Regions from separate parts of the Homo sapiens genome. Here all the other regions are linked to region 4. Evidence: fine-mapped expression QTL. A gene starts in region 4. Each other region holds a variant in brackets. All regions are shown on one strand. Distances are between the middles of the regions.

The links.
Region 1: its variant is fine-mapped to the expression of PRKAG2 in monocytes after Pam3CSK4 (Quach 2016, PIP 0.95).
Region 2: its variant is fine-mapped to the expression of PRKAG2 in whole blood (TOPMed, PIP above 0.99).
Region 3: its variant is fine-mapped to the expression of PRKAG2 in whole blood (TOPMed, PIP 0.92).
Region 5: its variant is fine-mapped to the expression of PRKAG2 in nasal epithelium (TOPMed, PIP 0.95).
Region 6: its variant is fine-mapped to the expression of PRKAG2 in skeletal muscle (FUSION, PIP 0.95).

The regions. Positions count from the first base shown.
Region 1 is chr7:151,793,716-151,798,786 of GRCh38, reverse strand. The region is part of intron 1 of PRKAG2 (protein kinase AMP-activated non-catalytic subunit gamma 2); the gene reads left to right. Among named protein-coding and RNA genes, the nearest start is that of PRKAG2-AS2, 10 kb to the left of the region's middle. RefSeq lists enhancers at 1,674-2,255, 2,256-2,838, 3,099-3,238, 3,783-4,680. The variant A/T (reference allele first, on the strand shown) is at 2,129.
Region 2 is chr7:151,631,229-151,636,299 of GRCh38, reverse strand. PRKAG2 (protein kinase AMP-activated non-catalytic subunit gamma 2) reads left to right here. Exons shown (of 16, transcript NM_016203.4): 5 at 4,162-4,231. Among named protein-coding and RNA genes, the nearest start is that of RHEB, 110 kb to the right of the region's middle. RefSeq lists an enhancer at 2,868-3,217 and silencers at 3,588-4,457, 4,608-4,707. The variant G/A (reference allele first, on the strand shown) is at 2,996.
Region 3 is chr7:151,659,239-151,664,309 of GRCh38, reverse strand. All of the region lies in intron 4 of PRKAG2 (protein kinase AMP-activated non-catalytic subunit gamma 2), which reads left to right. Among named protein-coding and RNA genes, the nearest start is that of RHEB, 140 kb to the right of the region's middle. The variant G/A (reference allele first, on the strand shown) is at 2,972.
Region 4 is chr7:151,874,924-151,879,994 of GRCh38, reverse strand. PRKAG2 (protein kinase AMP-activated non-catalytic subunit gamma 2) reads left to right here and starts at 2,880. Exons shown (of 16, transcript NM_016203.4): 1 at 2,880-3,488. The coding sequence starts at 3,375. It overlaps PRKAG2-AS1 (PRKAG2 antisense RNA 1), which reads right to left and starts at 2,953. Exons shown (of 3, transcript NR_038926.1): 1 at 2,855-2,953; 2 at 2,129-2,158; 3 at 772-1,433. RefSeq lists silencers at 2,386-2,815, 3,578-3,627, 3,688-3,827 and an enhancer at 4,018-4,137.
Region 5 is chr7:151,673,849-151,678,919 of GRCh38, reverse strand. It overlaps PRKAG2 (protein kinase AMP-activated non-catalytic subunit gamma 2), which reads left to right. Exons shown (of 16, transcript NM_016203.4): 4 at 3,283-3,500. Among named protein-coding and RNA genes, the nearest start is that of PRKAG2-AS2, 130 kb to the left of the region's middle. The variant T/G (reference allele first, on the strand shown) is at 1,987.
Region 6 is chr7:151,718,002-151,723,072 of GRCh38, reverse strand. All of the region lies in intron 3 of PRKAG2 (protein kinase AMP-activated non-catalytic subunit gamma 2), which reads left to right. Among named protein-coding and RNA genes, the nearest start is that of PRKAG2-AS2, 86 kb to the left of the region's middle. RefSeq lists an enhancer at 1,683-2,204. The variant T/G (reference allele first, on the strand shown) is at 2,589.

The sequences.
Region 1 (5,071 bases), 81 kb after region 4:
GGAGAGGAGGACAGATGGTACCCCTTGCTCCACACTTCTGGTGACACCTCGGGGACAGAAGGTCAGCTCTTCTCTGTTCCCTGAAATCTACCTGCATGATTTCAAAGCTTATCTAATGCAGAATTTTTCAGACTTTTTCACCCACAACACAATAGGAAGTACATTTTATTCAGGCTGGGTACAGCGGCTCATGCCTGTAATCTCAACACTCTGGGAGGCCAAGGCAGGTATATCCCTTGAGCCCAGGAGTTCAAGACCAGCCTGGACAACATGGGAAAACGCCATCTCTACTAAAAATAGAAAAATTAGCCGGGCGTGGTGGCTCACACCTGTAATCCCAGCTACTTGGGAGACTGAGGCATGAGAATCGCTTGAACCCGGGAGGCGGAGGTTGAAGTGAGCCAAGATTGCGCTACTACACTCCAGCCTGGGCGACAGAGTGAGACTCCATCTCAAAAAACAAAAAACGAACAAACAAAAAAACAGGCCGGACACGGTAGCTCACACCTCTAATCACAACACTTTGGGAGGCCAAAGTAGGTGGATCATGAGGTCAGGAGTTTGAGACCAGCCTGGCCAACATGGTGAAACCCCATCTCTACTAAATATACAAAAATTAGCCAGGCGTGGTGGCGGGCGCCTGTAATCTCAGCTACTCAGAGGCTGAGGCAGGAGAATCACTTGAACCCAGGAGGCGGAGGTTGCAGTGAGCCGAGATTGTGCCATTGCATTCCAGCCTGGATGACAGAGCAAGACTCTGTCTCAGGGGAAAAAACAAACAAACAAACAAAGTACATTTTATTCTATGTGTGTGTGAATCATTGAGACACAGGCTTCATGCAACCATGAGATACATTCTTATTGTAATTCAGTTTTTGGTGGTTGTGCAATCCACTAAATTGATTTCATAATCCACTGACAAGTTGGGACTGTCAGTGTGAAGAGCCGTGGCCAGATGCTGCGGGAGTGGCCGGCTCACCCCGGGATGGAAGTGAGGAGACAAATGAAAGCTCCTCTATTCACTATGCTTGGCTTGGGAAGCCCTGGCTTGCTTTTTAAGTCCATGGTATTTCCTCCTTCCTCTGAACTCCCTGTACCTTTTGATCTATAATGTGCCTGGCACAGAGCAGGTGGGTGAAACAAGATGGAGTAGAAGGAGTCCTTGGGTACCCGTAGAAAGTGTTGGGGAAGAATCTTTTGATGTATGGCTCTGTAAATATGGACAGTTGAGATTCTGGAAGCACTGAGGTGGCAGCCTTTGCAGGCCTCAGCTCTGGGCCAAAGCCCAAAGCCACATCTTGGGTAGCTGTTTGGGAGCAGAAATGAGGTCTCTGAGCCCTCGTTCAGAGGTGTCCTCTCTCACACAAGGTCCTCTACGTAGAGGAGGGTGTGTCTCAGAGCCAGCCAGCAACTCGGTGACCTTACAAAAATGTCCCCAGGGTGCCCAATTTTATTGTAGTTCATGGTGTCCCTCCTGCAGTTTGTCTTCAAGCACTAACCAAAACCGCTGGGTGTGTACCCGGTGGGGAGCACCAGGCGGCGGTGGGGGGTGGGGGGGGTGGCAAGAAGCTGACTGTGGGGGAAGCGTCAGATCTGACCAGGGCCATTTGGGCCTCTGCAGCAGAGGTCAGGCCGGGGCCATCTCACTTTCACCTCGTGGCTGGTTTTTTCCTCTCTGAAGTCTGGGTGGCCGATGACTGGAGGGTGTGTCTGCAGCTGGCTGGCCGGGCCGGGTGTGGGGCCTCGGGGCCTTTCCCTTGAGTCGGTAGTGCCCACGGAGGGCTCTATGCTGGTATTGGCTGGTGGTTTGGCATTTTATTTGCGAGCCAATAAAACCTCCCCAGAACCCCAGAGCTGGCCTTTTCACACCCTGTCTTGGTAGAATCATAATGTCAGAGCTGAAGACAGTCCTAGAAATGAAGGGCTGTTCCCTCCGTACAGGGGCTGGAGGTGGCGCATCAGGATGTCATTCCCTTATCCCGAGGTCTTGGTGTTTACTGGCCCCCGGGCCGTCCTCAGTCATTTACGCCCCAGCTTATGACCACTCTCCCCGTGTCAGCTCTGCGAAGGGGAAGGACAGAGGCTCATGGAATCCAGCCCTGGGAGGAGCCGGTGACTCAGGGGTGAA[A/T]AAGACGCGGTCCTTGCCGAGCTCCAACTGGGTGTGGCAGGAGACAGGCCCTCAGTGACAGGACAGGGTGACAAGATGCCATGACAGACACTTGCACGACTGTTACCCAGCGTGCGAAGGCAAGAGGATTGCCCCACTCTGCTGCCAAGGCTCAGAGACGAGGCTAGGAGGTGATCGTGGTGCTTTTCTAAACCTGTGATTGCCCTTCACGTACTGTGAATGTTCCCTGACAGTCAAAGGAGGACATTTGGCCATTTCCTGTTGTTCTCTAAGCACTGCCAGGACAACGGCCCTTCACATCCGTCTTTGTCCTCTCGTCCAGCTGGGGCCTGTGGGTGTCTCACTGGGCCCTGGGCAAAGTGAGGGTTCCATAGTGTGGACAGAGAGCCACAGTGTGGGCGGAGAGCCCACCCGATGACTGAGCAGACCCATCCGTCTATGCAGCGAAGGCTGAGAGCTTCCAAACAGCGGCCTGCTTTTACCCTGGACTCTCCCCATGTCTGTCCCCACCAGCTCGGGTGAGGGGGCCTAGGGCTCTGTGTTAGGAGGGGTCTGCAGAGAAGGAGAACCAAGACTAGAGATCCAAGCATATAGATCTCCTATTTTTCTTAATATATGTATACTAAGAAAATATATTAAGTTAATATATTATGTGATTATATCTCCTTAATATACATATTTTTCTTAATATGTATATTGAGATATAATCACATAATATATTAACTCTATATAATGTATATAACATGATTACATATACATATTATCGTGATATATATATATATATATATATATATATATATATATATATATATGAGATTTGTTTGAAAGAATTGACTCATGCGTTGGTCGGAACTGGAAAGTCCCGAATCCACTGGGCAGACGGACTAGAAGCTCAGGCAGTCGATGCTGCAATCATGAAGCAGAATTTCCCCTTCCAGAACCCTCTGTTTTCCCTCTTCAGGCCTGCTGCGGATTGGGGGAGGCCCACCCACATCATTCAGCATGATCTGCTTCACTTCAAGTCACTGACTGTAGATGTCATCCACGTCTGCAAATACGCCCACGGCAGCCACCTGCTTGGTATTTGATTGAATCAGTGGGTGCTATGGCCTCGCCAGGCTGACACATCAAATTAACCGTTACTGACTCCACGATGGGATGTGGTCAGTGGAGCCCAGCGCTCCCTGTCCCATAACATCCCCTCCCCTGCCCCCTGGCTGGGGCCCGCAGTGCCACCTGTGAAGACCGCAGCTACTCCGGATGGAGGCGGCAACCTGCAGCCCAGGCCACACCCTTGGAAGGGAGCTGGGAGGCTGCCTGCTGCTGGTCCTCGAGGAGACGGCTGCACAGACCATGCAAATGCGCCCCCCAACCTGCATGTCCCGGGGCCTCCCAGGTACTTGCCTCCTTCCTCATGAACTGGGAGCTGACCCAGACTCCTGTAGCCTCCACCCAACCTGTCCCTCTAGGTGCTGCCCCTGCCCCCCACTCTCCCTCCTTCTGGGGGATCTCAGACAGGCTGGAAGAAGACAAGCATGTGTGATGAGCAGAGGCTGGACTCAACCTGGCCTGGGAGCAGCTGCCTGTAAGAGGCTGCCCTGGGGCCCTGAACTAGGAAGGGGCTCTCAGGAATCCCACAGCACAAGCCCCTGAGGTCAGGACGGTCAGGATGGCCACCCCCAGCTGGTCAGAAGAGGCACTGTTGGCCCCTGCAGAGCATCCTCCACCACAACGTGAGGAGGCCAGTGGGGTCCCTCCAAGCTTCCATGGAGCTCTGGTCAAGTAAAGGCTGCCCGGAGTGGGCAAGGAAAGGCTCGGCTGCCCTTTGCACGAGGACAGAGCCGGAGACTCTGGCAGCGGCCATGCTGTGATCCTCTTTAGAACTGCCGTGCACAAGTCATGAATCATCTTGGCTTTCACCTTGGGAACGGGATAAAGACAGCTCTCTAATTATAAGGGGGACAGCCAGTGTCTTTGCAGAAGCCTCTGAAACCCGATCTCAGGCCTTGGTTGAGTGTGAGCAACTGCCCTGGCTTCCGCGGGAGCCGCATGAGGGGCCTGGCTGCCCTGGTGATGATGCCTTTGTTGCTCCCCACAGCCTTCATCATCAGGCCCCAGTGTGCCCTCGGCCAGCGGCCCTCGCCATGCCCAGTGCCACGGGGGCTCACACCGCGGGAAGGGCCTTTGATGACGTCCTCTGGTCTCGTTTCCCACCAGCCCGTGATAAGAAGGATGATGGCCTCCTTTTACACACTGGAAAGTGGAGGTTCCTGGATTTTAAAGGGCGTGCTCCACATAAGACGTGAATGCAGAACTGCGGGGAGGGTCGAGGTCTCCTGGGCACTCCGGGCCAGGGATTCTGCAGCTACTTGGTTTTGAGCAAAAAGAGTTTCATGTCTGGTGCTGATATGGAGCTAGGGAAGCCCCGGGTGGCCTCGGGCCAGACGAGGAACTGGGAATACGGTGGAGCAGGGGACTTCCTCAAAGCCAGGGGAGGCTCAGGCTGCCAGGCCAGGGTCCTTGGCCTTGGGGGGCGGGGAAGGGGAGCCCCGAGGCGGTTGTGGGAACCAGGACCACCAGGTGAGGGAGCCAGGGAGGAAGGGTGGCCATAGGAGTGAAAAACAGTTGGATGTTTCTTTTGACATCAGGAAGTTGCTTAGGCTGTAGTGAGAAACTACGGTGTCCTCTGTGGAAAGTAAATGGCTCTGGAACTTCTCTGAGAGTGGAGCTTAGGCCTTCCCGGATTTGGCCACTGGCCCTCCCCTGCTGCCTGGTTCCAGTGATTCAATATTTGTTCCTTATTTTTCTGAGAGTGGTTATATAACATGAATGTTTTTCAAAGGCTCCAATTGACCTGGCTCTGGTCACCTCCTGCCGCCCATCAGTACCAAGAATTGCCCGTTTGGTGGTTTTGGGGATTGCGCAAGGCCGGCCTGTCCAGAG
Region 2 (5,071 bases), 240 kb after region 4:
AATGGGTACAAGCTGTCTCTTTGGGATGATGAAAATGTAAACTTAGATAGTTGCACAATTCTGAATATTCCAAAAATCACTGGGCTGCACACTTTAAATGGGTGAGTTATTTTATGGTATGTGAATTATATTTCAGTAAAGATTTTTTTGGCTGGGCGCGGTGGCTCATGCCTGTAATCCCAGCACTTTGGGAGTCTGAGGCGGGTGGATCACGAGGTCAGGAGATCGAGACCATCTTGGCTAACACGGTGAAACCCAGTCTCTACTAAAAAAAATACAAAAAATTAGCCTGTAGTCCTAGCTACTCCGGAGGCTAAGGCAGGAGAATGGCGTGAACCCGGGAGGTGGAGCTGGCAGTGAGCTGAGATGGCACCACTGCACTCCAGCCTGGGGGACAAAGCGAGACTCCGTCTCAAAAAAAAAAAAAAAAAAATTTATTGTCATTTCCTCCACAGAATTAAATCAGCTTGGCCTGACTCATAGGGAAAAATACAGGGTGATATCACAAGCAGGATATTGACATTGATACAGTCAAGATGTAGAACAGTTCGGTCACCACAAGGATCTCTTACATTATCCTCTTATAGCCATAGGCACCTCTGGCCCCCTACCCCAGCCCCTGATCCCCGGCATCCACTAATCTGTTCTCCATTTCGACCATTTTATTTCAAGACTATAATATAAATGGAATCATACAGTATATGACGTTTTAGGACTGGCTTTTTCCCCCTCAGCATAATTCCCTGGAGATCTATCCAAGTTGTTGTATGTGTCAGTAGTTCCTTCCTTTTTCTTGCTGAGTAGTATTTTACGGTATAGATGGACCTACCACAGCCCGCTTCACCATTCATCCATTGAACGACATCTGTTATTTCGTTTGCACTGTTGCAAAAAAGCTGCTATGAATATTCATGTACAAGTTTTTGTGTAAATGTAAGTTTTCATTTCCCTGGGATAAATGCCCAAGAGTGTAACTGATGTGTTACATGGTAGTTGCATGTTTAGTTTTATAAAAAACTGCCAAATTGTTTTTAAGAGTGGTGGTTCCTGACCAGGCACAGTGGCTCACGCCTGTAATCCCAGCACTTTGGGAGGCCAAGGCAGGCAGATCACCTGAGGTCGGGAGTTCAAGACCAGCCTGACCAATATGGTGAAACCTCATCTCTACTAAAAATACAAAAATTAGCTGACCTGTGGTAGCATGTGCCTGTAATCCTAGCTACTCAGGAGGCTGAGACAGGAAAATTGCCTGAACCTGGGAGGTAGAGGTTGCAGTGAGTTGAGATAGGTCCACTGCGCTCCAGCCTGGGCCACAGAGGGAGACCCTGTCTCAAAAAAAAAAGAAAAAAAAAAAAAAAAACAGTGGTTCCATTTTGCATTCCCACCAGCAGTGTAGAAGTAATCCTGTCTGTCTCTCTACATCCTTACCAGCATTTGATGTTGTTACTATTGTGATTTTAGCCATTTTAACAGTTGTGTAGTAGTATCTCATTGTGGTTTTAATTCGCATTTATATAATGGCTAATGACTTTGAACATCTTTTCATGCACTAATTTGCCATCTGTATATCTTTCTTGGTGAAACAGCTCTGTGTCATTTGCCTATGTTCTAATTGGATTATTTTCTCCATTTTCTGTTTAATATTGGTAGTGTTTATGTATTCCAGACATTTTTATTTTATTTTATTTTTGCTATTCCTTGGAGAGCAGGGCTAACCCTATAGGCAGTGTGCTAGTAATTTGTTGGCTATGTGATTTGCAAGTATTTTCTCCTACTGTGTAGCTTTTCTTTTCATCCTCTTAACAGGGTCTTTCGCAGAGCAAAAATTCTTAATTTTAATGAGGTCCATTTATGTTTTTCCTTTTATGGACTGTGTTTTTGGTGTCAAGTCTAACTTTTGCCTTGCCCCAGTTCCCAAATATTTTCTCCAAAAAGTTTCATAGTTTTAAGTTCACGATCCAATGTGAGCTAATTTTTGTGTAAAACGCAAGGCTTAGGTTGGGGTTTGTTTTTGTCTTTTTACCTTTTGATATCCAATTACTCCAGTTCTATTGCTTTTACACCTCCATCAAAAATTGGTTTGCCATGTTTGCATGGGTCTATTTCTGGGTTTTCTATTTATTTCTATTGATTATTATATCCATTCTTCTGCCAATACCATTGTCTTGATTGCTGTATCTATATAGTTTGCTTTAATATTAAGCGACTTCAAGATTAAAGAATTCTACTGTAGTCCCAGCTACTTGGGAGGCTGAGGCAGGAGAATGGCGTGAACCCAGGAAGCAGAGCTTGCAGTGAGCCGAGGTTGCGCCACTGCACTCCAGCCTGGGTGACAGAGCGAGACTCCGTCTCAAAAAAATAATAAATAAATAAATAGAATTCTAGAGCTTGCACCTTTCCATATAAATTTTAGAATAAGCTTATTTATGTCTTTAAAAAAAACCCTAATTTGGTAGCAATTGCATTAAACCAAAAGATTAATCTGGGGGAGAATTGTCATTTTTACTATGTTGGGGCTTCCAGCTCAGGACTGTCTCTCCATTTATTAGCTCGTCTTTCATCTACAGTTTGTGATTTTCAGCATACAGCTACTATACATGGTTTCTTGAGTTTATGCCTAAGTATTAATTTTCTTTGAAGTGATTGTATTAAGTGATATTGTTTTATATATTTTTCCATGTGTTCATTGTTAGTTTATAGAAATGTGATTGATTTTTGTGTGTTGATCTTGTATGCTATGACCTTACCAAACTCACTAATTCCAGGTGAGTTTTTTCTTTCTTTTGTAGATTCTTTGATATTTTGTATGTAGATAACATGTTATCTACACAGGTGTTTTTCTTCCTTTCCAATCTGTATGCGTTTTCTTTCCTTTTCTTGCCTTATTGCAGGGCCTAGTACTTCTAGAACCATGTTGAATAGGATTAGTGAGAGCAGACACCCTGGCCTGGTTTCTGAACTTCATAGGGAAAACAGTCTTTCACTATGAAGTATG[G/A]TATCTGCTGTAGCTTTTTACCATGAAACATCTTAGTTTTGTTTTCTTTTTCTCTCCCCACCCCTTTTCTTTTTTTAAGAGGTTTAAGACTTAGGGATTGGCGCAAGTAAGATGACAAAGCTAAACGAGAGGCATTTTCAGGACTTCCTCTTTCAGGCCCGGCTTGCAAGAGCGCTAGGGCCAAGCTCCTTTCAGCCCTAATCGGTACTGGAGCTAATCGCATTCGCGGCGCCCGTGCACTCTGCAGGGATGGGCCGTGGGGCCAGGGACCTCAGTCCCCTCTCGGCCTGTCCTGCCCTTCCAGGAGGCTAGCGGCTGCTGGCCGCGCAGCCTGCCAACCTGAGTTGGCCATAGTAGAGTCTCAGATACCCAGCTCCTGAGCGGCCAGGGCCAGATTCAGGGTGTGTACGTTTTTGGCAGCGGCTCCCCAACCGAGAAGACACTCGGCTGCGAAGAGAGGACGCGAATTAAGAGTTCCATGCTGGAAAAAAAAAAATGGATAGCGACAAAGTGCATCTACAATACGTGTAGCCCACGGAACGATTTTTGTTAAGGGGGCCGAGGATGGGCAGTTACATCTAAAATTTGGAAAGGGAAGAGGAAAGCGAGAAAGGATCCCCTAGCTGGCGCCCCGGGGCGTTCTGCAGCCTCCAGCCCCTCTCCCCCTCCCCGCGCCGCGGAGCCCACACCTGCGCAGGTGGAGCCTGCCGAGCGCGGCCGCCGGTGCTGGGAAGGTGAGCGGCGCCGGGGGGCGGAGTGGGGGCGGGCCGCGGGCCTCTCCCAATGGCGGCACGGCGGGGAGGACGCGGGCCACGGCCGGAGGGGGGCGCCCCGGGCCCAGGCGCTGCCGCCCTCGAGCTCCCGGGTCCCTTCCCACGCTTCCTCCCGGGCGGGCCGTACCAAGGCGCGGGGGGGAGCGGCGCGTCCCACTCGCGGAGGGGCACGCGGGCCGCGGCCGCGCCACCTGCGGCGGCGGCGGCGGCCTCGGGCGGGTGGGGGCAGCGCTCCCGCTCCGCCCCCGGCCCCCGCTGCCCGCGTCCCCTGCCAGGCCCCTCCTCCCGGCGGCGCGGCAGAGCCAGGCCCCAGCGCTCGGCCGGCCGCGAGCCCGCCGGCCGGGGACGAGCGTCGCAGCTCATGCTGATCGCTGTCCTCCTCCTCCCCCTCAGGCGGCGCTGGCGGCGGCCCTGGGACCCGCGGAAGCCGGCATGCTGGAGAAGCTGGAGTTCGAGGACGAAGGTGAGTGCGCCCCGCCCGCTGCCGGCCCGGCGCTCCCACGGCCCGGCCGCCCGAGGACCGGGACCCGCGGGGACCCCGCGCCCCATCTCCGGCGCTGCCCCACGGCGAGCTGCGTCCTGCGGAAGCCCAGGGGCCGGGGCGGGAACCGGGGCGGGGATGCGGGCGCCGGCGAGCTCGGGCTGCGGGGTACCGGGCGTCCGCGGAGGGGACGCGAGCCAGGCTCCCAGAGCGCAGCCCTGAGCCCGGCATCCACACGGACGGGCGGCCCTTTTGTCCTTACTCGCCGAACTCGAATTACAGCAAGGTGTCAGGGAGCGCTAATTGTTTGTGCTTGTCACCATGCACTCGGAGGCAACCCCGAATCATACCCACAGTCCAGACCCTTTAATCATAGACTGGTGCCCTTATCTGCGCCTGTGAAGATATGACCGGTAGGGTGTGTCTTCTTTTTTAATGGGGAAAGTTAAATAGGAAAACCTGAAGAGGTTATTGAATCGGTGTTGAGTTCAGGCGACCCTCTCACTCCGTCATTTCTGTCGCCTCTCCTCTCACTTGGTTGTTTTTTTTCCCTCTCCTGTCTTCTTCTTGTATCTTACAGGTAAATAACTTGGATCTTATTTGGAGGCTGTTAACATTTGAAAGGCATGAGCTCGTTCTTTGGCAAAATTAATATTTAAAATGGAATGTGACGAGCTTTCACCAGGATCTTATTTTGAAGCTGTTAACATTTGAACGGGATGAGCTTGCTCTTACGCAAAATTAATATGTAAAATGAAATGTGATGAGCTCAGAGTCGGGAAAGAACTTTATATAAGATGCTTGACAATTCGAGGACTTGAA
Region 3 (5,071 bases), 220 kb after region 4:
GTTGCTGTGAGGCTCAAATGAGATAAAATTGTGTAAAGTTACTCCCCCAAAGGCTCAATGGCTAGCAAACGCTAAAGCCAAGATTTGAACCAAGGCAGCTGGGCTCCAGAATCCGTGTTCTCAGCATGGTTGTCCGTCACCTCTGGAGAGATCCGAGATTCTCAGCTGATCCAAGGTTGACGCAGCATCTTAGCTCATATACCTGATTAGGGGTTTGGCACATGGTGTCTCATGGGTCAAGTCTGGCCCACCACCTGGTTTTGTGATTAAAGTTTTATTGGCACACAGCTACGTGCATTCATTTATTTATTGTCCTTGCCGTTTTCATGCTGCAACAGCAGAGTGAGTTGCTGCAACAGAGACTATATGGCTCACAAAGCCGAAATATTTCTATCTGGGCTTTTTTCAGAAAGTTTGCCAATCTGTGACTAATCTGTGCCAGAGCTTCCCTTTATACTGCTAGCCAGTTGCTTGTTGGAACATCCAATGCAAAGGGGCAGATTGAGTCTCATCCCCAGAAAGGCAAGGGACAAACAGTAGTGCTTTGCCTCACTAAAGACGTGGAGTGCATTCCACTGGAGAGGGCAGTGGAATTAGTTATTTGTCCTGCCCTTAAGGAGGATCAGACTGGCCACTAAGCTGGCAAAGTGGGCCAGACGTGGTGGCTTACGCCTGTAATCCCAGCGGTCTAGGAGGCCGAGGTGGGCAGATCACTTGAGCCCAGGAGTTCGAGACCAGCCTCAACACGGCAAAACCCCATCTCTCTTAAAAATACAAAAAATTAGCTGGGCTGGTGGTGCACGCCTGTAGTCCCAGCTACTTGGGAGGCTGAGGTGGGAGAATCATCTGAGCCTGGGAGGTCGAGGCTGCAGTGAGCCATGATTTTGCCTGGGCGAGAGGACTGAGACCCTGTTTGAAAAACAAAAACAAAAAGAAAATGTTGGCCAAGTGGTAAATAATCCAGCAGAGTTAGGACTTGAAGATTATACTCCTTGCCTTCAGAGCGTTATAGAATTACACACTCTGCTTTTGGGCTGATTGAGGAGATTTGGAGTAACATAAAGTGAAGGTGGAAGGGTCTTTGTTCTTCCCCTTAACCTCCTTGAGTAAGGAAGGGCTGCACATTTGAAGTGGCACAGACAAACAGCATAAACTTGCCCTTCCCTCCCTTGCCATGATTTCCAGAGGAGGGACTTGTTCAGATTTGTGTCGTTTTTTTGTTTTGTTTTGTTTTTTAAATTTTGGAAGAGACCAGCGTTTTGCCATGTTGGCCAGGCTGGTCTTGAACTCCTGACCTCAGGTGATCCACCCACCTCAGCCTCCCAAAGATTCCCAAAGTAATCCCAAATCCAAAGGGATTACAAGTGTGAGCCACTGTGCCAAGCCCAGACTTGTGTTTTATGTATTTGTTTGTTTTTAGAGATAGATTCTCCCTCTGTCACTCATGCTGGAGTGTGATCATAGCTCACTGCAGCCTCAAACTCCTGGGCTCAAGCTATCCTGAGTAGCCTCCTAAGTAGCTGGGATTACCAGCACACACCACCATGCCCGACTAATTTTTTTTCTGTTGTTGAAGAGATAGGTTCTCCCTGTGTTGCCCAGGCTGGTCTTGAACTTCTGGGCTCAAGCCATCCTCCTTCCTTGGCCTCCCAAAGTGCTGGGAGCCACCACGCCCAGCAACAGACTTGCATTTTATGGAATGATTACTCTAGTAACAGGCTAGAGGCTGGAATTTATGCGGAAAAGACTAAACCAGAAAACCAGTAAAGTGCTGCAGTAGCCCAGTGAGAGGTGACAAAAGGCTGAATTACAGCCACAGGAGTGGAGATTCAGAGGAAGGAATTCATTATAAAAGTGCAGCCTGGATATGTGGCGTGTGGGAAGAGGACTCTAGGGGGACTCTCCAGTTTCTGGCATGAAAGGAAGGATGACAGTGTCATTAAATTAGAAAAACACTGGACGGAGAAGTAGAGCTGGGATGAAACCTCAGTTCCATCTGGGGCACATTTTCTTTCATTCCTTTGGGACATCAAATAGAAATGGCACGGACGTGGATTTAGAAGTCTGATGTGGAGAAGCAGAGGTTAGGAAAATGATTCTCTTTGTCCATTTTATTTCCCATGCCTTAAGTCAACCAAATCAAGACTCTGAACACTTTCTACCTATGTAACAGCCGGTGCGGGGAAGAAAGCAAATGTCGTTTAATTCTAATAAGGGATACTTCTTTACCAATAGAGTTGTGTGAAAATGCATTTGGGGGGCTGAACATTAAATGGTGGAAAAATTACTGTACCTATTTATGCATCCTAGACAGGCTTGTCTTGATTTGCATTTAGATGAGAATTCCTTCAGCTCAGAACCGGGACTGTCCCCTAATTCATAAGCACTTAGAAAAGCATTAACTTTAGCTGGCGAGGTATCCTTGGTACAACTGTGACACAAAACCTAATACCAGTGTTCCCTTAATGACTCAGGAGAAAGTAGCCATTGAAATGGTGGAAAAGTTTAGAACAAGCTTCCTTTGCCATCTCTTTGAGAAGGAACGCATACCCTGTTAATCAATGACCGCCCAGCCTCTCTCACCGTGCTTGAGTAAACCTGTTTCGAAGGGTTGTGTATTTTTTCCACTCTTTTGGAGGCTTCGTGCAGGACTCTAAAGCATTATTATTCTAAGTCCTGAGTAAGAATGTCAGCTGCTCATCGTAGCGTGATTACAGACAGAGGTATATTTTATTTTTTTAAAAAATGGAAATTGAAACAGGTGGTTCAATGAAAAGCTTTCTAAGGAACTACACAGATGAAATTCTAATACGATTTCTACAGCTCTGCCCGTGATTTCCTCTTCATGTGCTGAATCAAAAGCCCTTTGGGAGGCCAAGGTGGGGGGTTGGATCATATGAGGTCAGGAGTTCAAGACCAGCCTGACCAATATGGTGAAATCCCGTCTCTACCAAAAACATAAAAATTAGCC[G/A]GGTGCGGTGGCTTGTGCCTGTAGTCCCAGCTATTCAGGAGGCTGAGGCAGGAGAATTGCTTGAGGCGGAAGTTGCAGTGAGCCAAGATTGCACCACTGCACTCCAGCCTGGGTGACAGAGCAAGACTCCGTCTCAGAAAAACAAAAACAAAAACAAAAAAAGACAGTGAAAGGCCCATGGCTAGTTCTTTCACGAATTGGTCAGGCTATTCAATTATGGTGGTTCGGTCTGATTAAGCCATTACTTACTTTGCATTTGATTTTTCAAAACACATACATCTGGAGAAGTATTTGGTTCTCTCTTTTAAAAACAACATTCCTGTAAGATGAAGAAGTTCTGGAGATTGGTTACACCACAGTGTGAGCATGCTTAATGCTACTGACTGTCTACTGAAAAATGGTTAAGATGGCAAACTATGCTATGTGTATTACACCACAACTCAAACCTTTTAAAAATGACATTCCTCTGATTATAAAAGGAAAAACATAAAAAAGAAAATTAAAACTTCCTGGAATCCCGCCTCTTTGAGACAAATGGATAAATTCCGGTGTCACATTTTCGTCTAACTTTTGTTGTTCCTTTATACACAAATACAGAAATGGACAGATAACAGATGTAGACCCTGCTAGAGACTGTTCAGCAACTTAGCTTTTCACTTAATAGTATAATCAGGTCCCTGTCTTCAATTTACATGGTTTCATTGTTGGAGGAATGTCATCTTTTCAAGTCTTATTTTCATAAAATCTAGTAGACACACAGTATAAGTATTGCTTTATACAATTCAAATTATAAAGCAAACTACTGGTTCTAATATAGTAAACAACGAATGTTACATATAGCCTGGAGAGCATTTATTATATACCAAAAGCCATTGGATAGAGGTTGTATTGCTATTTGGATACAAATCGTGCAATTTCAGTAGAATGGCTCACTATGAATCAGATTCTTTTAAGAAACTAAGTATACAGTACTTTAGTACCAGGGAGACCATAAACGTTTCTGAGTCATTTGCCTGCTCAAGACTCAGCTACGGGTTTGAGAAGCTGGGAGATTGAAAGAAAGGAGATTTTCCTTCTTAAGATCTGTCCACGTTCCTGGACTTGAATCTGCCCTTTCACTTTTATTATGTCTAACAATTAAAGATTGATTTGGGGAATCTCTGAATACCAGTCTATGTGTTCACTACTCAGATCTAATAATACTAGCATTGGGATGTGGTATTAATATGGTTTATTCTTTTCCGGAATGTAGGAATGAATTGTGGAAATAACTTTTTTTGGAGACAGGGTCTCACTCTGTCACCCAGGCTGGAGTACAGTGGCATGATCATAGCTCACTGTAACCTCGAACTCCCAGCCTCAAGCAGTCCTCCCACCTCGGCCTCCCGAGTAGCTGGGACTACAGGCATGCACTACCACGCCTGGCAGAGAAATAATTTCGCATGAGCCGTGAGTGATGTGTTCAGACACAGCTAGTGGGAAAATATATACTTAATCCATTCCGAATTTTTTCTAGCGGAGCCTCCAAGAGGCTATCTATAGCCCTCCATGCTGAAATAATCAAAGACATTATCTTCAAACTAAAGCCTTTGTCTTAGCTTAAGAATGTGTGATCCTTTCTGTTCCCAAGACACACGTCTATAGATGGGGCTGTGTTTACACTCTGCCTGCCTACTTATTCAATCTTACAAATGGGCAATTAAAGGAAAATTCTGTTTCCCACCAGGCATTAACTGTATATTGCATTTAGTCTACACATTAGTTTCACACGCATCTGTCTGCCCGGTCACCATGTGTGAACCCCTGTGTTAAGATATCTGCGTGGTGTGAGAAGAAAAGCCTCAAGGTCAACACAAATACTGATCCATGCCTTTTTATAAGGTGGTAAAGCAAATACAAAGGGCTTTTAGAACCAGTAGACTCAGTGCATCGTCAGCATTTACCCTGTTAACCTGACTTAAATGGGAGTGGTGGACATGCCATGGACTCCCCTGAACAAAGCAAAGTCAATTTTCTATTTTTCTGAGAAACAGAAGCAGGAGGCAAAAAGAGCAGTAGAGCAGGAATCTATGGCCTGGATAAAACAAACACAAATTTTTT
Region 4 (5,071 bases):
AGGCACCCCACCCCCATCCCACTTCGCACAGCAGTTGCAAGTCCAGGCATCCGGAGCTTCTGACCGACAGGCTGGGCTCTCAATTGGGGTTCCCACAACCCCCTCTCAGGTTCATTAATTTGCTAGAGTGGAACACAGAACTCAGGGAAATGTACATTTACTGGTTTATTATAACGCATATTACCAAGAACACAGATGATGGGATGTACAGGGAGAACAGGCACGGAGTTTCCATGCCCTTCCCAGGCACCCCGTCTTCCAGCAGCCTCCACATGTCCAGGGATCCAGAAGCCCCCAAACCCAGACCTCTTGGGCTTCTTAAGGAGACTTCATTGGACAGACACGATTGACGACCATGCAGAAATGTGATCGAACAAAAAGGTATGATCCAATAGTGACTGAGTAAGTGTGGACACCCAAACAAGTCCTGCCTATTCCGACCGTTATTGGCCTTTCCGTGCAGGATTTCTTCCTCTCGGGAATGGGGCAGGACCCCTTCTGAATAGAGGGTCTTAAGTCCCACAATCAGAAAGATGAGGGAGGATTAGAGTCCTGCCTTGGGCTGGTGAGGTGGTGAAGGAGGGCAGGGGAAGTTCAGAGGAGATTGTTTCCTGGGGTGTCTGAGGCCTAAAGCGCCCCAACATTATAACAAGAGACTGTGATGAGGGCGACGAGAGTGCTAAGCCAGGAACCCTGGACAAAACCCAGAATTTATACCTCGTCATATCACAAGGACCAAAAAAATTAAAAATTAAAAAAAGGCTCTTAAAATGCAGGCAATACAGTAAAATGTTTTAATGTAGGAAGCACTAAAGTCTTTGTTCCAACAAAATTAACTCAGAGAACAAATTATTTTACATATGTATACAGATCAATCAACAAAAGTACACATTATAACAATTGCTAAACACTGTCCATAAAGAAAACATTTCAAATGAGAAGCGCCATCGCGGTTTTCTCCTTCTGGGTCACCCAGTGGAATGAGGGCCCTCGCCAGGGGCTCTTCCCAGACGTCTCTTCACACCAACCGGCTTCCTTCTGATGGCCCCATTTTCCTTTAAAACCAGTTCTCATCAAATAGGGTGTTTTATGCACCCTGGCAAATGATCATTTTGACAAGGATTAAAACTGTAAGCTAAACAGATGACACAAATGACAATTGGGAATAATTTTTAGTGGGGACAGAGGCTAAATACTACCCCCTCCCCTTTTCTACTTCTAACCAATATCTTGAGCATTCAGTGGGACAATACAGTCTTGCTGGGTCTCTTGAAATCCTCTAGCAAGAAGCCAGCCAGGAGAAGACCCAGAAGTCCCACACCTGTGGGGCCAGGATGGCTGCTTGGTTGCTAAACCCAGACAGGGTCCTTCCAGTGCATCTGCCCCTGTCAGGCTCTGTCTCGAGACTGGGGATCTTCCAGGCTGGCTTCATTCTGGACCAGAGAGCAGAGGAGAAGGAGAAAGAATATAAACCCACCCCTATGAGCCAGGGAACCACCCAAGCTGTAAGGATTTTGTGCAAGCTGCTGGAACTCGGGTTGGAAAAGCCACCCGGCAAGCAGCTGAAAGGAAGGATGCTTCTCCCTGCGTGGGCGCACGCCTGCTTCCTAAGAGATGATCCTTTGGGTGGGCTGATCATGCCTCCTCCTCTGGGGAGGGAGTCCTGCGAAAGCACGCACCTCAAAAGGAGTAAAGGCCCTATGGTGTCCCCAAAGCGACCCCTGTCGCGTTCTTTCTGCGGGTGGCCTCCCTGCATTACTGATTACTCGGAGCGGCTGAGCTGACGTCAGCATTCTGGGAGCGCCAATGACCTTTGGGGTCATCACATCCTCAGAAACTAGAGCAGGAGGGGAAGCGACCCCCAAGCCAGCACTCCCCCTACTTTCCACCAGGGAGCCGAGGTCGCGCCATCCTGGGGCGCATCTGGGGGTGGGGGACACACCAGCCCCCTCCCCCAACCCCTCTAGGGCCCTCGGCAGCAGGCGGTACTGGATGCCCACCCGGGGCTCTAAAGGACCTGGGCCGCACCGGGAACCCTCGCCCGGGTCTTCGAGCCCTCCCCTTCTCCCAATTCTTTCCGCAGTCTCAGGAGCCCCACGTTTCCCGCGGCGTGGGGACACGCACTTACCGCGGATCCACTGCGCAAACCTTGATGAACCTGAAAAAAGCAGGGTGGGGTGGGGTGGGGTGAGGGTGGGGGTGGCTAGACCCTGCTCGCACCCAGCGCCACGCACCGCTCTCTGGGCGGGTTCGAGTGCGCGCGCCGGGCGGGGCGGGACCCGGGGGCTGCGGTGTTTCGAGAAGCACGTGCTACTTCGCGCGCAGCGCCCCCGGAGACTGTGGGCTTCCTCGCTGCCTGGTCTACGGCAGGGCGGGCGCGGGGGCGTGTTTCAAAGGGTAGGGCACACAGTGAGACGCCGGGAGGCGGGATGGATCCGAAACCAGCTCGCAGCGAGTCCCAAGCGGCTGCGGCCGCCGCAGGGGTCTGGGCGCGGCGACGAGGGCGGCGTGGGGCGACGGGGAGCGGGACGGTGGCGCTGCACGCCGCGCACTTCCTGTTCAACACGCGCCGCCTCCCACCACCCGCGCTCCCCGAGCTTGCGTCGGTGCCAGGCCCGGCCCCTCACTGTCCCCTTGCGGTCCCCTGGGGCCGCGGCGCGGCGGGGGGCGAGGAGCGGGCGCCCTGCCCTTCTTGGCCCGCTGGACTCCGGGCGCCCCCTCCGGCGCGCAGGGCCGCGAGCGCCGCCGCCAGAACTTCTGCCAGCGGCCGCCCGTAGCCTAATTGCGCAGAGGGCTCGCCTTGCACCTCCTCTTCCCCCGCCGCCCTCCCTCTCGCCCAGAAAGGAGGACGGACCCAGCTGCAGGCTCCGAGCTGGTTTATTCTGCGGCCGAGGATTACATTTATGCACGAACGGGCTTACTGGTTCCAGATTCCCCACTTGGGCACAGGCATAGGAGGCTTGTTTTCCAAATTGCTGGTTTTAATTGCACCTGCCTTTCAGATTACCTCTGGGAATCTGTGGGAGGAGCCGAGAGGGTGGAAAATGTTTCTTAGCTTTGCAAAAGGAAGAAAACTTTGTCACCCAGCGGGAGACCTCAGCCACGAGTAACCCGGGGAGACACCAGAACCGGGACGGGCTTTGACTGATTTGCCTACGAGGGTTCCGTAGGAAAGGACGCTTGAATTCGGCGCTTCGGCGGCGGCGGCGGCCGCGCGAGTTCCCTGCTCACCCTCCCTCTCCGCGGAAGTCCCCACGAGGTGGCTTCAGGGTGTAACAGAGCGCGCGGCTCCAGTCCGAAGGCAGCGGCCGGGGGAGGGAAGGAGGGGACCGAACCCCCGAGGAGTTTCGCAGAATCAACTTCTGGTTAGAGTTATGGGAAGCGCGGTTATGGACACCAAGAAGAAAAAAGATGTTTCCAGCCCCGGCGGGAGCGGCGGCAAGAAAAATGCCAGCCAGAAGAGGCGTTCGCTGCGCGTGCACATTCCGGTGAGTCCCAGCACTCGGTCCCCTGCTCCCCAGCCCTCCTGTCGCTCCCGTCCCCGGCGCCGAAGCGGTTAACGCTGGACGCCCCGCGCGCGCCGTGCGTGCCCCTCCTGTCACTTCGGGCGGCTTGGGGAAAGGGTAGAGGGACAGGGCCCGAGCTGGGCTGGCGGAGCCGGGGCTCAATCTCTCTCTCTGCCCGCGTGCAGCCAGGGCTGGGGCTCCGCCTGGGGCGGGGGCTGGGCGGCTGCAGACTAGAGGGGGCGCCGGGCGCGGCGGGTGGGCGGCTGGGCGTAGCCCGGTATCCAGCCGGGTGCGGGTGCGGGGGGCGGTGCGTTGTGTTGTTTTGCTGAAAAGGGACGGTGTGGACTGCGCTCCGGGGAGGTGGAGCCCGCGCTCGGCTGCTGGAGACGGAGAGAGGGGAGGGGAGGGAGGAGAGGGGAGGGGCGGTGGGTGGGGAAAGCAGCGGGGCGGGGGTTGGGGGGAGCTGTGTAGCTGCGTCTTCCAATGCACCCCCTCCGCTCCAGTTTCTCTCCGGGCGTTTCTGGGCCTGGAGCGGGGGTCTCCTCTGCCGCCGTTCCCTTCCCCCGCCCCGGGAGTGTACTTTGGGTCTCTGTGGTATTTGGGGGCTCGGAGCTCCCTAATCCGTGCAGGCTGCATTGAACTTCAGCCCCGTCCGCGCCAGCCGCCCGGGAGGACATTGGCGACTCGGATCTGCCTGCGGCTTCACTTTGTCCAGCCAGAGGGGCGGCGGGCCGCGTAGTGGTTCTCTTTTCGGAAGGCGCCCCGGTAGCCCGCGGCCACTGTTCCTCGCCTCCACGTAGCGGGGTAGGGCGGTGGGAGGTGTGGCCCACTGGGTCACACCCTCCGCCTCAGCCAACCAAGTAAATGTTTGTGTACACACACACACACACACACACACACACACACACACACACACACACACACACCAGAGTGCTCCGTAGAGAAAGTTATTTTGCTCTCCCGGGGCAGGGTGGGAGTGCGCAGTGAATGGGCTGTCCGGACCCCTCATTAAAGCTAATCCTTCCCGACAGGGTCAGGCGCAGCTGGCATGGCCGAGGCAGGCCACTCACTTCCCACTGTGAATCCCAGGGCGCACTGCCCCGTGTTTGCTGAGCCACCCTTCTTTTAGACGCCCCGCTAAGGTCCTCCTGTGTAAACTCCGGCCCACACGTGCCTAACGCTTGGGTGAAGAGGGTGGAGTCCAGGGGCGGGTCTCCAGACACCTGATGCCAAGTAGCCCCACAGGGGCCCTGGGCCAGCCCTCCCTGGCTGGAAAGCTCTGGGGCTGGAAACTTGGACCCCTGGCTGCTGTGTGGCCCCCACGGTGGTGACTCGATTATGCAGGAATAAGTGTTCTATTTGAAAATGAAACATTCTTGTTTACATCTCTCATGTAAGACATTTAAAACCATGTTCGTGAGTTAAAAGTTAGATGTTGCTGCCACAAACCTCTTAAACAGTGATCACTTGAGCTAACCGTGTAACTACTGTTTCTCCCATTTGTCAAATGCAGGAAATAATACCCATTTTTCCTGCTTTATACGGATATTGAAATAAAGTAATTC
Region 5 (5,071 bases), 200 kb after region 4:
TGGCACAATCTCAGCTCACTGCAACCTCCGCCTCTTGGGTTCAAGCGATTCTCCTGCCTCAGCCTCTGGAGTGGCTGGGACTACAGGCGCGCGCCACTACGCCTAGCTAATATTTGTATTTTTAGTAGAGATGGGGTTTTGCCATGTTGGCCAGTCTGGTCTTGAACTCCTAACCTCAGGTGGTCCACCCACTTCAGCCTCCTGAAATGCTGAGATTATAGGCATGAGCCACTGCACCTGGCCTCTATTTTTCAAGAGTTTGGGACTTTGTTGTGAGGGCCTTTTACATTTTAAGTTTCGGGTCCTAACCCTCTCCTCCTGCTTCCACCCAGAGCTGCCTCCCAAGTGCCAGCCCGGGGCTTCCAGAGGGCTTTCCACTCACACTGCTCAGTCTCCTGAAGGGACTCCCTGGAAAAGGGGGCTCCTTCTCTAATAGGTGACTTCCTAAACCTCCCCCGGACACACAAAACAAAACATGCGCCCCACTCTCCACAGAGAGGAACAGATTCACCCTGACCTTGAGCCGGTCCTCTCACTGTTCTTTCTGTTCCTTGCCTGGTGGCAGCAGGCATTTGCCAGACCCCTTGGCTCAGGACAGCACTGGGTGCCCTGGGGCCCAGAGGGAGTGGCAGGACCCCCGTCCCCAAGACAGACGGTAGATCTTGGTGGGGAGAGGGGACTTACATACTTTTATGTTTGGTTTGAACGTTAAACAGTTTGTCATTAAGTGGTAACATACAGGACAGTGAAAAGGCTTTATGAGTTTGGTGACACGAGGGACAGGAGGACAGGTCCTTCCCCATGAGGATGGAGCAGGAGGGACACGGGTGGTTCTGGGAGCTGCGAGGAGGAGGAACCCAGCAGAGATGCCTGGGGAGAGTGAACCAGGCCTGTGGCTCTGTAGGTGACGCAGCCTTGTCCAGACCAGAAACAGTGACTGGTGGCTCTAGGACCTGATAAAAGGAAAACGTCTGCCGAATTATGTTTAAAGGAGTTTGACTGAGCAATGAACGATTCGCAAATCGAGCAGCCTTCTGAGCCAGAGTAGACTCCGAGAGCCCAGCTCTCAGCCATGTGGTGGAAGAAGATTGATGGACAGAAAAAGGAAAGTGACCACAGAAAGCGGAAGTAAGGCACAGAAACACCTGGATTGGTTACAGCTCAGCATTTGTCTTACTTGAACACGGTTGGAACAGTTGGCTACATGTGATTGCCAAAACTCTGGCTGGCACGAATGTAGGCTATGGTCTGTTACAGTTCACAATGTACAGAAAACCCTTTAGGCCAAACTTAAAATATTTAAGGAGGCAGCTCTAGGCTACATGTAATTTAACAGGGCATGTTCACTGACATCTTTGGTTTGACTTGCATAATTCAAATTTTATTTTAAAATTTTATTTTTCTACCTGTAAGATGTAAGATATCAGAGGGTGAGTGTGATGGCTCATGCCTGCAATCCCAGCACTTTGGGAGGCCGGGGCAGGCAGATCACTTGAGGTCAGGAGTTCGAAAGCAGCTTGCCCAACATGGTGAAACCCCATGTCTACTAAAAATATTTTTAAAAGATTAGCCAGGCCTGGTGGCAGGTGCCTGTAATCCCAGCTACTCAGGATGCTAAGGCAGGAGAATCGCTTGAACCCGGGAGGCAGAGGTTGCAGTGAGCTGAGATCACACCACAGCACTGCAGCCTGGGCGACAAGAGTGAAAACTCTGTCTCAAAAAAAAAAGAAAAAGAGATTTGAGATATCAGACCCAAAGCCAGATTCTGCTTCTCTTAGAACACAATCCATGCATTGCATCAGTCTCCTCAGGCTGTTATAACAAAGTGCCACCGACTGAGTGGCTTAAAACAACTAAAATTTAGCCCTGTCCTGAAGGCCAGAAGTTCAAAATCGAGGTGTTGGCAGCGCCACGCTCTCTCTGAAACCTGTAGGGGAGGATTCCTCTTTGCCTCGCCCTGGCTTCTGGGTTTGCCAGCAATCCCCA[T/G]CGCGCCTTGGCTGCAGCTGCATTGCTCCGATCGCTGCCTCTGCCAGCACGAGGCCTTCCCTCTGGGTATCCGTTTCTGTGTCTCTTTTCCTCTTCTTATAAGGACACCAGTCACATTGCATTAGGGCCCACCCTAGTCCAGCAAAATCTCATCTAGACTTGGTTGATCTGAAAAGACCCTGTTTCCAAATAAGGTCACATTCACAGGTCACATCCTACCTGTGCACTGTGCCATGATTTATTTAACCTCTTCTTGACGAGCCTCTGCATCTCCAGCTCTGCTTTCAAAAGCACCATGGTAATGAATTAGGTGTACACTCGCCACTTAAAAATTACATAAATAAGTCTATGGAAGAAATAGAGTTGTTTCTGTTAGTTAGAAATAAGTCAAAGTGGAGAACCTTTAACTCCCAGAAGATTCATGTCTCCAGTCTTCCTACAATCCTCCACTAACACCGTTGCCCCTCCCATTATTTGCCCCCTCCCTTTTCCTGACCATCTAAATCTGTTTCACTTTTTAGACCCCATTCCAGTCCCACCCTTTCCCTGAAGTCTCCTTGGGTATTTATCTTCGCAGTGAAGTCTTGCTACTGGGAACTTACAGTGGTGATGTTCATGTTGCACGTTTTGGTAGGAATAACACATCCATCCCCTCCCCTCCCCTCCCCTCCCGTCCCCTCCCCCTCCCCCTCCTCAGATACATGGTCCCATGGCTTCTGCAGCATTGGCCTGCATCTCTGCTGCACATTTTCCGAACTTCCCCATGTTTTACCTCAATAAATAAGGCACCACTGCGTTTGCTCTTGGCGCCATGCTGGGGAAAGAAGGAGAGGAGATCAAATGATATTTGGCTGAATGGAGGAAAATAGCCTCTGGAGGGTGTGTGTAAAAGTTCACCAGATAACTCGGGACCGTGTGAGCACCCCGTTCCCAATGAGGGGATGCTGCCCACAACCGAGCGTGGATAGTGAGGCGTTTCTGGAAACAGCTGATTCTAAGAGACTAGAAATTGGTTTTTAAAGCTTTTCCTCAACATTCAGAATAATTTGGCTTCTTGCCATTTGAGGTTTTGGGCACCAGGAATGGTGAGAGCCTCCCTCTGCCATGGCGGGACCTCTGACCACCTCCAATGTCCCTTCCTGGAGGCCGGACCTCTGACTGCCCCCGACGTCCCTTCCTGGAGGCCGGACCTCTGACCTCTCCCCATCTCCCTTCCTGGAGACCAGACCTCTGACCACCCCCGACGTCCCTTCCTGGAAGCCGGACCTCTGACCGTCCTTGGTGTTTCTTCTGCAGCCTCCGGCCTCTCCTCCTCTCCGTCAACACCCACCCAAGTGACCAAGCAGCACACGTTTCCCCTGGAATCCTATAAGCACGAGCCTGAACGGTTAGAGAATCGCATCTATGCCTCGTCTTCCCCCCCGGACACAGGGCAGAGGTTCTGCCCGTCTTCCTTCCAGAGCCCGACCAGGCCTCCACTGGCATCACCGACACACTATGCTCCCTCCAAAGCCGTAAGTCTGGGCCCTTCTGTGGGTGGGGCTGCCGGGTGGCAGAGGGAGGGCAGAGCAGTTATTGCCCCAAGCTGAGCAGTCTATCTGCAGCCGAGGCTGAGGTCGTGTGCTCCCGACATCTTCAGGATATTGTACCATAAATCACAGGCTGAGGGAGAAATGGTGAGGGCACAATAGCAAATGGAAATACACAAAAAATAGCTGGGTGCGGTGGCTCACACCTGTAGTCCCAGCACTTTGGGAGGCCAAGATAGGCAGATCACTTGAGGCCAGGAGTTCGAGACCAGCCTGGCCAACATGGCAAAACCCTGTCTCTACCAAAACTGCAAAAATTAGCTGGGTGTGGTGGCGTGCACCTGTATCCCAACTACTCGGGAGGCTGAGGCATAAGAATTGCTTAAACCTAGATGGCAGACACTGCAGTGAGCTGAGATCATGACACCGCACTCCAGCCCCTATGTAACAGAGCAGACTCTGTCTGAAAAAAAAAAGAAAAAAAGAAACAAAATGAAAAATGGTAACATCTGGGACATGACCAGGAGGAGGTTTTTTTCCCCTCAGCTTCTTAAAAATCATTCATTGAAAGCTTTATTTGAATTTACCTTGCTTGGGATACTACAGTATTCATAAAATGTCATAGGTAAAGCAAAAAAAAAAAGTAAAACAGAAGTGTTATTCTAGAGGTTTAAGATTTTGAGTCTGATGACATCATCAGACTTAGGATGCCCTCTTTGGAAGGGGAGCATTTCATAGAGGAGTGGGATGGAGCGACAGACGTGTGCAGCCTCCAGCACTTCCTGAGACCGAGGCAGCGAATCTCCGTGGCTTCACTAAGCACTTAAGCACTCTCTGTTTCAACACAGTGGGCCCTACTGAGACCCCAGCTGTCACTGCTGGTTTAATTACCGCAGGTACCCAGTATTATTCCCGTGCCCAGCGACACTGTGAGAGCCACATCCCTGGGTCTACCTGTATGGCTGGAACCACTCCATTCAGTTGTCACATTAGTGTCGCATGTCACTGGGGCATGACATAGTGCCACACACTGGATGGCTTAAAACAATAGAAATGTACTGTCTCACTGTTCTGGAGGCCAAAAGTCCAAAGTCAAGGTGTTGGCAGGGCTACACTCTCTTCAAAGCCTCTAGGGAGAGTTCTTCCTTGCCTTCTCCAGCTTCAGCTTGTGACAGTGTTACTCCAGTCTCTGTCCCGTTCTCACATAGCCATCTTCCCTTTGTCTTTCTTTGCATCCCAATTTCCTTCTTATAAGAATACAAGGCCAGGTGCGGTGGCTCATGCCTGTAAACCCAGCACTTTGGAAGGCCAAGGTGGGTGGATCACTTGAGGCCAGGAGTTCCAGACCAGCCTGGCCAGCATGGTGAAACCCTGTCTTTACTAAAAATACAAAAAATTATCTTGGCGTGGTGGTGGGCACCTGTAATCCCAACTAGTCAGGAGACTGAGGCATGAGAACCGTGGGAACCCAGAGGCAGAGGTTGCAGTGAGCCGAGATTGCACCACTGCACTCCGGCCTGGGTGACAGAGCGAGACACTGTCTCAAAAAAAAAAAA
Region 6 (5,071 bases), 160 kb after region 4:
AAGAGATGGTGACTAGCATAGAATTTCTCCAGTTCTCCTGCGGTGGAGGGGAGGAGTGGGCAGGCTGCAGGGGATGTCTTTCCTGTCTGCAGCCTTCCGTTTTCCACTTTTTGGGAGGCAGAGACCTAAGAAAAGAGGAGCCAAGGATGTGGTTGTGGGGCTGGGGTGCTCAGAAATGGGGAGCAGCTGGAGGATTAAAAGGCCTCTGGGGCAGGGAAGAATGTCCTTTAATGGGGACCTGCCGGGCCTGTGCCTATCTAATCAGTTTTGCTGTGTGTTAGTAGCACATCCATAATAAGAAGTGCCTGTGACAGCCGGGACTGGGAATCGGTGTTGAGCTGTTGGCTGATGGTGGGGAGGCGGCGGTGCACACTCTCGGCTTCCCTTGCACACGAACCTCGCAGAGCATGGGGCTGCATGTCCGTGTGTCCCCACGGGAGTCTCATGGCATTTCTGGAGAATAGACAGGATCCTACCCCCGCCACTCACCTGCTAAAGTCTAGCATTCCTTTATCAAAGCCGAGCCCTTCTTTCCTCAGTGAGAGATGAGCTCCACGAGGAGACCCCTGGGGAGGGAGCTGGGGTAAGTGATGGTAGTCCTTTCGCTGGAAGTTTTGATGCCAAGAGTAGGAGAGGAAAGGATGCCAATGGCAAGACATCCTTGGCTGAAAGATGGCTGCTTTCACCCATCCTAATGTTTGTAAACTTATTTACCCTTTTCCTAAGGTGAGGTTGGCAGGCAGTGCCATGTCAAGCAGGTAACGAACTAACGCTCCCCTGAACATAGCTCGTCAGGAGGAAGGGTGCTAGGAAAACCAGACTGCAATGGGCTGAACCCCTTTTATAAGATAGCAAAGTCTTGGTCACATCTGAGTCTACACCTGCATTGTAAAGAATGTCTCTGGGGGTAAATGAGAGAGCCAACTAATGAGAAATACGGGTTACAGGCTCACTGTGCTGTGGGCACTAGGAGCTATGCCAGGAGGATTCTACAACATCCATCATATTCACATGCAGGAAACAATAGCCAGCTCACCCACAAGACAGAATGCCACAGCCACGCTTGAGGAATTCTGCAAGGTGATTGTGTGGGAAGGAGTAGTCAGGGTGGGCTGCATGGAGGAGGTGGCCTTGAACTGGGCCTCGAGGGAGTAGCAGGGTTGGGATAGGCAGATAAGGGGAAAGAATCTAGGACAAGGAGTATGTGTAGTGTTTGTACAGAGTCACCATGGGAACTAAGGGACCTGGGTCAGAGAGGAATGGTAAGGCCAGATAACGTCTATGAAAGCAAACATAATTGGCTGGTACATGCTTGATGGGACGTTGGCCTGACACTGTGAATATCCGAGGCCAAAACATCTGTCTTCTCCAGACAAACTAAATCTCTACTCAGATTTTAGAGGGGCCTACCCTGCTGCTCCCTGGCCAACAGGGTAGAATGTCCTTGACTGCCCCAGGGGGTCCTAGCATATGTCCCCCACTGTCACGGGCAGGCCTGGAGGGGGACATTAGGTGACCATGGGGCAGAGGGGTGGCACGCCTCCTGTGGGAGGTGGCTGGTCACCCTCGGTTCTGCATGAGAGGCCTTGGAGGGAGGACGTGCTCTGGGGAGCCAGGCCCTCAGGCACCCCAGCTGGGCCCCATAGCGCTGTGCTGGCCTCGGCCCCGGCCCTGGCCCCGGCCCTGGCCCTGGCCCTGTCTTCAGCCCTTTCCTGTTGGCATTAGAGCTCCAGTTGTAGGCAGAAGGCAGCTCCAGAGTGACCGAGGAGATGGCAGAGGAAGCAGGAAGGGGCATTTTCGAGATGCAGAGAGGGGACAGGACCCCCGCTTCAGGATGCAGGATGGGTGGCTGCAGGGATGGGACCCCAGAAAAGCCTGAGTGCTGGGCGGCTGCAGGGTTCTGGCTCCCATGCCTGGGTAGGTGGCCAGGCTGCCCCATCCAGCCCTCTGACATCCTCTATCCTTCTGTCCCCCTCTGCCCTCTGTGTCCCCTCCATCCCCTCTGCCCCCTTCATGCCCCTCCACCCTGGTCTGTCCTTTTTCACCCCCCTCTGTTCTTCATTCTCCTCCATTCCCTCCATCCCCTCTGCCTGCTCCATCTCCTTCTGTTCCTTCTGCCCTTATTACCCCGCTCCATCCCTCTCCATCCCCCTCCATTCCCCCCACCACTACCCTCTGTCCCCAACCATCCCCTCTGACCCTCTCCCTCCCGTTCCATTCTCCTCCATGCCCTTCTGTCCCCTCTATCCCCTCCAAACCCTCCATTGCCCTCTCTCCCCTCAATCCCCTGTCCCCCTCCATCCCTTTCCATCCCTCTGCCCCCTTCATCCCCCTCCATCCCCTCCATTCTCTCTGTCCTCCTTTATCCCCCTCTGTCCCCATCCATCCCCTCCATCCCCCTCCATCCCCTCCATTCTCTCCTCCTTCATCCCCCTCTGTCCCCCTCTGCCATTTCTGCTCATCTGGACGGGCTCTGGAGCCCTGCATGCATTTTCTAGAGCTTGACGGTGCTTTGTTTTCAAAACAGAGGCTGTCAGTGCTTGACTTCAGGGTGTCAAGGTCTGTTCTATCTATTTTAAGAAAATTGT[T/G]TTCCACAAATAGCAGTAAGAACACAGTCTGTGTTACACCCACAGAGATTTAATTGCCTATAGACCGACCTCCTGAGCTAGCAGCCTCCACCCTTTCTGGAAAGGGCCATGGTCTTGCTGTATTAGGTAGACTCTCCTATCTAGGGTGCTTTTGGGGCTGGAAGTAACAGAAACTCAAACGCGAACTGGCTTGAACAACAATGCTTGTCCCAGACCAGCAAGTCTGTGTTCTTTCTCTCTGTGTCCATCTGGGCTTCCACTACCTTTCCTTGTGGTCACAAACGGCTGTCTGCAGCCACTGGAGGAGTTTGTAGGTTTATGATCTGGAGGGAGAGAAAGAAGAAAGGGCATTTCCCCCTACTGTGGAATGAGGGCCCTTCCCTGATTCTGATTGGACCATCTTGGAAGGGCTCGCCCCTGGGCCAGTGCTAGTGGCCAGGCCTCACCCTGACCTAAGCACATCCCCTGGGGGTGCTCACAGACCTGGAGGAGCCCAGGACTGGGCCAGAGCTGCCCCTGGTCTGGACCTGGGCAGAGCAAGCACAGCCAATTGGGAGAGTTCCATGGGAAGGTGCAGATTGAATGTGGCGGCCTCAGTGAAATAACAGAACTACCTCAGTAGGCACAGGGGCCAGGGAAGGCGTTACTTGGAGCCCCAACTTACAGGCTGCCTGGCAAACTCAGGGGGAGGAGGGGCAGGCTCCAGTTTCTTGTTGAGAACAGATCAGGGTGCCAGGCCCACATAGGCTCTGGGAAGCCAGGTGGGAGTGACAGTGCCCATCGCAAGACAGTGGTGCTGTGGGCGGGACCCAGGCAGGAATGCAGGTCCCTTGAGAGGCAGGTGCCAGGACAGGACTCAACACACACCAGACTCACTGGGGGAACTGCCCGGGAAGGATGAGGGTAGGAGGCAGAAGACAGGGGGCATCTTCTTTCTGACCCCTGCGGCCACGGTGGCAGGGAAGATTGGACAGCGAGAGTCTCAGGGTGACCCAGCACCCGGCGCTTAGGCATTGGCTGGGAGCAGCCCAGGGCAGGGGCTGAGGGTGCTGGCGGGTTTGGGGTGGGTTGGGAGCATGGTCTCTGTGTGAAGGGGGAAGCGGAAGTTATAGCCCAGCTCCCCCAGCAGGAGGCCTGAGCGGTGGGTCTCTGTGACTACCTCCTTCATAAAGTCCCACTTGCCCAAGAACTTGTATGATAAGTTGGACCAGGGCTGAGCGTGCCGGGGCCGGGAAGCATGTTGCAGAGACCGGGAGTGGGGCAGGACCTCTCTCCCTTCTGCCATGGGGCTTTCTGTCTGCACTTCCACTGCTTCCACCGCTGAGCTGGTTGCAAGATACATCTCGTCTCCCGGAGCAACGCTCGGGGAACAGGGTGGCACACGTCTCCTTCAGTCCCCTCCATTTCCCTGAGTTCGGGGCCTTGTACTTATCAGGGGCTTAATGAATGTTTGTGGGTGGGTTGGAAAGTCTGAGCACAGAGAGAACAGGAATCATCTGAGTCTAAGAAACTACTTGGCAAGATGCAGGCTGGCACCCTCAGGAACACAGGGAAACAGGCAGCCCTTTAGGTCTCAGAGGCCGATGCTGAAGAGAGATGAAGCCAGTTCTTGAACAGAAGGGCCAGGGGAGGTGGGCAGACCTGCCTTCTGGTTTGGTGGACAAGAATGAGAGAATCCCATTGAGCCGTCATCTTTGGACTCCATGGAAGGGGTCCCTCCAGTCAGCTACGGGCCCAGAGATTCATTCTGGCTGGTTGTAGTGGATCCCAAAAATGTATTAAAAGCAGTGAATAGCTCACAGAGTCCCCAGGATGCAAAAAAAACCTGGGTTTTTTTGTTTGTTTTGTTTTTGGGTTTTTTTTTTTTTTTTTGCATCCTGGGGACTTCATGAGCTACTCAGCACTTTTACTGGGGACTTTGGTGGGTTTCCGAGAGGAGCCCACCATGACTTACAGAGCGGGGACACGGAGGCCCACGTGGCACTGGGCACAGCCACCATGACCTGCATGCAGCTGGAGGACTCGTGCCGTGCTGTGGACCAGATCGTGTCCCCCGAATTCATACGTTGAAGCCCTGACCCTCGATGTGGCTTATTTGGAGATAGGGCTTTGAGGAGGTAATTAAGGGTAAATAAAGTCATAAGGGTGGGGCTGTAAGCTGATAGGACTGTGGCCTTACAAGAAGAGGAAGAGCTCTACCCCCCCCTCCACCCACCACCATGGGAAGGCGGCTGTCTGCAAGCCAGGAAGAGGGTCCTCACCAGAAACCAACAGGGCTGGCACCGTGACCTTGGGCTTTCCAGCCCCCAGAACCGTAAGAAAATCAACTTCTGTTACGTAAGCCACCCCATCTATGTGCTCTGTTCTGCCAGCCCAAGATGACTAAGATAGTGTCTGCTCTGGAAGGCAGGACCTCCTGCCTGGCATCTGCTTCCATGTAGCAGAAGCTGAGTCTGGCCCAGGACGACCCTCACATCAGAGCC